Homo sapiens: one gene and its partner. Changing the gene in region 1 together with any one later gene gives a genetic interaction. Each region holds a gene or a part of one and is shown in the gene's direction. Other genes may lie near its edges.

Region 1 (4,303 bases):
CTTCGGCCTCCCAAAGTGCTGGGATTCCAGGCCGTGAGCCACTGCGCCTGGCCCAGGATCACTCTTTTCCCATTCACAGACTCAGCAGGGCACAGAGGCTCTGAGAACTTCCTTCCCTTCTAAAAGAAGCCTCTTGACAGTGAGTGGCGGGACCCCCAACCAATGACAATGAACTAGTGACAGTTCATTCTGCGCTGGGTCCTTGCGCGATCTCCCAACCACCCACTGAAGAGGCGGGTCCTGTTATGAATGACATTAGGGTGAGGAGGCAAAGGGAGACAGACTCAACGACCCATTCAAGACCAGACAGCCCAGATTTGAACCTGGCAAAAAGGGTATTCGTGCATCCAAAGCCCCGAAGAATGAGTAAAAAGATTAAGCAACATTTTGGGGTCCAGGGGCTGCATCCTTAACCATCAAGATATCCCGCTTCGCAAAACCTCCAACTTCAAGAGACAACCCGTAGGGTCCATTTCCCATCACGATCACCGCCTCCCCCACCCGCCTCCCCCAGTCCCATCCTTCAGCCCTTTTCCCGGGGCGCCCCCTTGTTCTCTGCTGGCAAAGGGCAGGGTTCCCGGGTCAGGTGACCCAGGTTCAAATCACACGATTCTAAGCTTTCTGTGCTTCCGTTTCCCCACCTATGGAATGGGCAGCCAGTAAAGGGGCTGGTGTGGGGGCTGAACCGGTTCTAAAGAGGGCAAGGGCCCGATGCAGCGCTGGGCGCCGTTATCTCCTCCCGAGCGGGGGCCGCTCCGAGTTCGGGAGGAATGAATGAACGACTGAACCAATGAGCCTTTGTGGACGCGGCCCGCCGTCTCCCGGCCTCTGCGGGCGAGGAAATGGGGGCGCCGGGCCCGGGAGGCCGCAGCCGGCCACCCAGGCCAACCCGGCGGGGACGCGGCCGCCGCCGCAGCCAGAGGGCCGAGCCTGCGACGCCATCACGGAGCCCGGGGCGGGCCCCCAAGGCCGAGCCCGAGCTTCCCACCCCGGGAGCCACCCACCGACGACGCCAGGGCCCGGGCCTCACCCCGAGACCACCGCGCGCGGAGCCACCCCCGCCGCCGCCTCAGGCTCCTCACCCGCCGCCGCCGCCGCGCGAGGCGGGGACATGCAAATGAACCAACGGTCTCCGCAGCGCCGCGCCGCGCAGGCGCAAGCCGCCGCCGAGTCCTGGTGCGCAGGCGCGGGCCGCCGCGGCCCGGCTCTCTTGCGCAAGCGCGCTGTCCGCTTCTTCTGGGCGGACGCTCTGGAGGCAAAACATTTCCCTGCTGGGGGCGGCGACCACCGTGAGCGTCCCGGAAGGGGCGGCAAAGACGCCTCCGTCGCGCACGAGGTGGCCTCGTTGGCTTTACCTTGGTTCGCGGTCGTCCTTGGTTATCGTGAGCGTCCGCGAGTCTCTGGGAGGCCAAGCCTAGGGGCGCCACAGCGCCTGCGCGCGTACGGCGGCCGGAAGGGGCTAGAGGCGGCTCCCTGGGTGACAACCGCGCGCCCCACCTTTCCCCACGTGGCCGCGAAGACCGGGTGAGACGCTGCGGCTGCCGAGGCCTGTCCCGCGCGGAGTGGGGAGTGGGGGTGCCGCAGGGTCGGGCTGGCGCGACCCTCGGGTACGTGGTTTGGGGGGAAAAAAAAAATGAAAGAATTTTACAGAAGCCGCCTGGGGACAAAATCCTCGGCTTCCCTGGCATTCGCTTTATTTTCATTCATTTTATTTATTCATTCAGCACCTGTGCACTGAGTGCCTGCTGCGTGTCGGGCCCCGTCCTAGGCAGTGGGGACAAGGAGGCTACAGGGTACAAATAAATGAGTGAACGATGTTGCTCTAGATACAGGTAATGGTGTGCAAATAATAACAGAGTGATGGGACGGGAAAGCAGGGCTGCTCTTTATCTAGAAGTGGTTTTGAAGGCTGTCTCTTGAGTGCTGGGAAGGATGAGAAAGGCGGGGAAGAGGAACTTGGAAGGCTTAGATAGAGAAGGTGCGGATAAGGAGGCTGGGTTTTGTTCTGAGAGGGTTGGGAAGCCACTACCGGGCTTTGAGCACGTGAGTGAGGTGGAGTCTAGGCTCTGGGAGTGGCAGGTGACGCCGCCCTTAGGGGAGGCTGGTGTTTGAACCAGAGTGGGTGTGGCTGGTAGAGGGACATGTGGATGGAGTCTTTTAGAGTCCCCAGCATGTCATGGCACACGTTTAATTTTCTTTTGAGACGGAGTCTTTCTCTGTCGCCCAGGCTAGAGTGTAGTGGCATGATCTTGACTCACTGCAACCTCCACCTCCCGGGTTCAAGGGCTTCCCCTGCCTCAGCCTCCCGAGTAGCTGGGACTACAGGTGCGCAACACCGCACCTGGCTAAATTTTGTATTTTTTTTTTTTTTGAAACGGAGTCAAAAGGAGTTCAAGCGATCTCCTGCCTCAGCCTCCTGAGTAGCTGGGATTACCGGTGTGCACTATCTTGCCTGGCCTTTTTTTTTTTTTTTGAGACGGAGTCTCGTTCTGTCACCCAGGCTGGAGTGCAGTGGCGCAATCTCAGCTCACTGCAAGCTCCGTCTCCTGGGTTCAGGCCATTCTCCTGCCTCAGCCTCCCGAGTAGCTGGAAATACAGGCACCCGCCACCACGCCCGGCTAGTTTTTTTGTATTTTTTTAGTAGAGACGGGGTTTCACCGTGTTAGCCAGGATGGTCTTGATCTCCTGACCTCATGATCCGCCCGCTTCGGCCTCCCAAAGTGCTGGGATTACAGGCGTGAGCCACCGTGCCCGGCCCTGGCTAATTTTTTGTATTTTCAGTAGAGACAGGATTTTGCTATGTTGGCCAGGCTGTTCTCAAACTCCTGACCTCAAGTGATCTACCCGCCTCAGACTCCCAAAGCGCTGGGATTATAGGCCTGAGCCACCGCACCTGGACAGCACAGTTTTCTTGATGAGCAGATTCCTGGCTGAGAGAAGGAAACTGGCTGCCAGTTAGGGGCCTTACTCATCTTCTGTTTTACCCTCAGCATGCCCTGATGGATAATAGGGACTGGTAATGCTGCTTCCCCCTTTTAGCCTAGGCTGTTCTCCAGGTAATTCTTACTTGGCCATCTCCAGGCACCATCTTATGTGTTCCAAATCTGTACTTTCCTCCTCCAACTCAGCCCTGTACCAGATCTAGGGGACCTTGGAGGACTCAGGTCAGGGGTGGTCACAGAGCCAGACCTTCCCAACTCAGTCAGCTCAGGGGTGGGTGGAAGGGAGGGGTTGTGGGTTGGGGAGTGAAGCCAGAGAGTGTGGGCTCTCTGAGTGGCCAGGAAAGGCAGCCACCTGGAAGGGCTGGCAGAAGCTCCACAGAGGACTGAGAATCCGAAGTATTTGAGACAGGTGTCAATCAGTTAGAAAGCTTATTTTGCCAAGGTTAAGGACATGTCTGTGACACAGCCTCAGGAGGTCCTGACAACATGTACCCAAGGTGGTTGGGGCACAGCTTGCTTTTATACATTTTAGGGAGACGTGAGATATAAATGAATATGTGTAAGATGGTCACAGGTAGAGACAAATGATTGCTTTCTTTTGAGTCTTTGGTCAGCCTTTCACAGAATACACGATTTATATGGGGTACAGGGCAGGTAGAGGAATAGTCATTTATGCCTCAGTCCGACTCATGAATCTGAGGTTTTGTTTCTTGTTTTTTGTTTTATTTTTTGAGATAGAGTCTCGCTCTGTCGCCCAGGCTGGAGTGCAATGGCGCAATCTTGGCTCACTGCAACCTCCACCTCCCGGGTTCAAGCAATTCTCTTGCCTCAGCCTCCTGAGTAGCTAGGATTACAGGCGCCCACTACCACGCCCAGTTAATTTTTATATTTTTAGTAGAGACGGGGTTTCGCCATGTTGGTCAGGCTGGTCTCGAATTCCTGACCTCAGGTGATCCACCGGTGTCAGCCTCCCAAAATGCTGGGATTACAGGCATGAGCCACGGAGCCAGGCCAAATCTGCATTTTTACATAAACGTTAGGGCAGAGAGAGCAACTGGATATGCATTTGTCTCAGGTGATGACTTTCTGTCCTGCACTTGTGAAGATCACCTGTCAATTTACATTGCCAGGGTGACATTCAACAAAATTGTTTTCAGGTAAAGATCTTGAGGGCCACAAGGAATTTCCTGGCCTGGCCGGGGTGGTGGGAGTGGAGTCCCCTACTCCTTACTCCCTACTGAGAAACTCTTTATATTACTCTTCCTTCACCTTTAACCTTGGAAATCCATAGCAGCCCTTAAAGAGCTCCCTTTTCTTCTGGGGCAGAAAGGAGAGGGGCCTATCTGCAAAAGAGTGAGATG
Region 2 (3,811 bases), on another chromosome or scaffold:
ATCATAGAACCTGGTTTACAGTCTATCCCCTGCCTAGTTCAGGGACTAACAGAATCTTGACAGATGTCTGATTCAGTCCCCTCGTTTTATAGCAATTGCTACTAACCTATGATTAGAACATGTTTAGGGCCAGAAATCTAACAATTGATATTTTGTTTTAAAATGCTACACTCAACCGGGCACGGTGGCTCACACCTGTAATCCCAACTCTTTGGGAGGCGAAGGTGGGCAGATCAGTTGAGGTCAGGAGTTGGAGACCAGCCTGGCCAACATGGTGAAACCCCATCTCTACTAAAAATAAAAAAATTAACCAAGGTGTGCTGGCATGCACCTGTAGTCCCAGCTACTTGGGAGGCTGAGGCAGGAGAATCACTTGAACCTGGAAGGCAGGGGTTGCAGTGAGCTGAGATTGCACCACTGCACTCCAACCTGGGCAACAGAGTGAGACTCTGCCTCTAAATAAATAAATAAATAAAATGCTACACTCTTGGTGCGCTGACTCCACATAGGGCATAGATATCTAGAGAGCCTGTATCGCGAATGTGAGCACTGCTTAGAAACCTTACAGGTTATGTCATCCTCGTAGAGAACATTTGAGCTCGGTTTGGTGTCACTGTCTTTGTCCCTGACTCACTGGTTGTAGAAGACAATGTAATACAGAGATATCAGTGATAAATTGAAAATAACTCTAGCTAAATGGCTAAGATTAATCATTTACTTCCCCCAACACTTTTGGTTAATGTACATTTAACCAAAAGTTAAGTGTGTTGGTAAACCTATAAGAGAGAGTCTCAGGAGTGTCTAAAGCCGCAAGGGAAAGAGAGCACCTCCCTTCACTTTAGCCTTGAAAAGCCCTGAGGAGGAGGTAAGATTTTTTAAGGGTTACTTGAATGACAGAATGAAAGGCAGGCAAACTAGATTGAGAGCATGTTCTGGGAATACGACATTGCTTGTGGCAGTGTTCGCTGGGTCAGAGTGGTATTTATTCCACATGCCTCTAAGAGCCTTCTCTGAGACAGTCAAAAGGATGCCTTCTGCCTCTTCATACACGGAACTTAGACTAGAGTGGGGAGGACCTAGATGGTCTAATTGGAAAGAGGGTGTTCAGCTTAACGCAGATGGAGAGAAGGGATAGGCTGAGGAATAGGAACCCGTTCAGACAGATGCCAAGGCAGAGCCAGCATGGTGCTCAGCTCCACTCTGTGGAGGTTGTGCCTCCTGAGTTTATGCAACTTTATAATTAGACTTGATTCGTCATAGAGAAGGGAACCTGGTGACCTTCAGGCAGGAAATTATGTGAACAGATGTTTGACAGTGGCAGTGAACAGTACATGGGAAAGAGTAAGAGGGAGGGAGGGAAAGGAGACACAGCAAAGTAGGAAGTGGGTGGAGGTGTGAGCAAGGTCTGCAGTAACAGTAAAGGATAACACCTCAGAATGGCTGCAGATTTCATGTGTATGATGAGAGGCTGTGATGTGTTGAAGATGAACCCAGACTTTCTTATTTGGAAGGTTAGGATAGAATGACACTGTCTGGAGTCATGGAAAACCCAGTCACTGAGCAGTCTGTTCCATGTTTAGTTTAGACGCAGGTGGAGGAGGATTAGCATGAGATGAATGACAAAGCAGCAGGTGGATGCTCAGACCTTGTGACCTTTCAAGGCTCCTGCGCAGTTAGGATGAAGTGATTCTATGGCAAATTGAGTACAAAAGTTCAGGAAGGGCCAGACGCGGCGGCCCATGCCTGTAATCCCAGCACTTCGGGAGGCTGAGGCAGGTGGATCACCTGAAGTTAGTAGTTCAAGACCAGCCTGACCAATATGGTGAAACCCCATCTCTATTAAAAATGCAAAAATTAGTTGGGCATGGTGGCGGGCGCTGGTAGTCACTTGAGAGTCACTTGAACCTGGGAGGCACAGGTTGCCGTGAGCCAAGCTTGTGCCACTGCACTCAGCGTGGGCGACAGAGCAAGACTCCATCTCCAAAAAGAAAAGGTCAGGAAGGGACAGGTCGTCTACATGTGTCACAGAGGCGAATAAACTTACCCCGAGGAGCCTGGCCTCTTGCTTCTCTGTTCAGTCTGTTTCCCTGCCCCGCTTTTGGTTACTGGTGAGCTGCATCATTCAGTCCTCTGACCCTCACTCCCCGCAGACTCCTGTCTCCCGTCTGTCCATCCTAGGCCTTCTGTTACTTTCTTCGTGCCCTTGATGCCTTGCATTCCATGTATTCACCTGTAAGTCCATGAACAGATCACCCTAGCCAGTATCTATACACAAACCTGTGTCTCACCTGTGCTCTGGCCCGATGGGCTTCCCACCTGCTGCTGACCACTGTTGTTCCTCCAGCCAGATGAGCTGCTCCCTGGTAATGTCCTGGTTATTGACTCATGACACAACCAAATCTTTGTTTCCTAAAGATGATGATCATGGGAGGTCCTGTCCTTTCAAATATGCGTGTGAGTTGATCAGAGCAGGGGCTCTGGGTACATCTCTCAGTGTCCTAAACATCATGTTTCAGTCATCCCTTTGCAGCTCTGAATGCTCTGAGCTTTGTCAAGCCTCACTGACTAATACATTTCATTAGGTTCATTTCAAATGACATGCATTTGTATACATTTTACCAGGTTGGTTGTATGAATTTATTTAAAAATTAAAGGAGACCTTAGTATAATAAACATTCTATATGATTATAAAGTCAGGAATTAGATCTTGACCACATCTCTCCAGAACTCACACTGCAGCTCACCCTGTAACTCAGTGAGCGCTTGATAACAGTGATGATAGTGGAGATGAAGATATATATTTTGCTCTTCCTAGGTTGAATACTGTCTTTCCAACTCCTCTGAGTTGTAGGGATGAGGCAGCTTTTTCTCCTCTGTGTTTATATTAGCACCGTGCACACAGTAGGAACCCATGAAACAGTAATTTAGTTGATGTGTCCAGGGTCTGCCAAGCTGCTGTATTTATCCACTTTATTACATATATTGACAATTTACCACCAGTTCTATGAAAATGAAATATATCTGTTCATATGGCTTTTTACTTTCCTTAGAATAATTTGAAATTTGAAGTTAATAGAACACAGTTTTGCATTCATTCAGCAAGTATTTATTGAATGTCTACTCTGTCAAGTGCTAGGGATCCACAGAAAGAATCAGACATGGTTTCTGTTTCCCAGGAGCACGTGGTCAGCTAGCACAGGGAATAAACTTACCAGTATGTAAATATTCACAAGGTCATAGAATGGATGAGTGAGTTGAGAGACATTCAACGTTCTATGGCACATCACATAGAAGAAGCAACTGGGCCGGGCGCGGTGGCTCATGCCTGTAATCCCAGCACTTTGGGAGGCCGGGGTGGGTGGATCACCTGAGGTCAGGAGTTTGAGACCAGCCTGACCAACATGGTGAAACCCTGTCTCTACTAAAAATGCAAAAATTAGCTGGGTGTGGTGATGGATGCCTGTAATCCCGGCTACTCGGGAGGCTGAGACAGGAGAATCACTTGAACCCAGGAGGTGGAAGCTGCAGTAAGCTGAGATTGCACCATTGTACTGCAGCCTGGGCAACGAGCAAAACTCTGTCTCAAAAAAACAAAAAAAGAGCAGCAGCAACTGACTGGTTGGATCAGGAAAGACTCTGAGAAAGGACTCCTGACCTGGCTCTTCCAGAATGAGGATGGATTTTCCATATGAAGGAGCCGGGGGCAGGACCTTCTGGGTAGAGCGTGAAAAGAACACAGTATGTGTGGAGAGCGGGAAATTGTGTTGAACTGTCTAGAAAACAGAGCCACAGGAATGCGTGTTGAGGGCTT

What was found.
Region 2: changes in ARMC6 (region 1) and SPPL3 together harm fitness less than expected from each alone (positive genetic interaction), as found in Homo sapiens cells (one large-scale study listed by BioGRID).

Annotation. Positions count from the first base shown.
Region 1 is NC_000019.10:19,032,407-19,036,709, forward strand, and holds the start of ARMC6 (armadillo repeat-containing protein 6), read left to right. Parts: upstream 1-1,196; 5' UTR 1,197-1,524; exon of another isoform or gene 1,525-1,607; intron 1,608-1,724; 5' UTR 1,725-1,803; coding exon 1,804-1,832; intron 1,833-4,303. Other genes in the region: SUGP2 (SURP and G-patch domain-containing protein 2), read right to left, coding at 1,083-1,113.
Region 2 is NC_000012.12:120,771,814-120,775,624, reverse strand, and holds part of SPPL3 (signal peptide peptidase-like 3), read left to right. Parts: intron 1-3,811.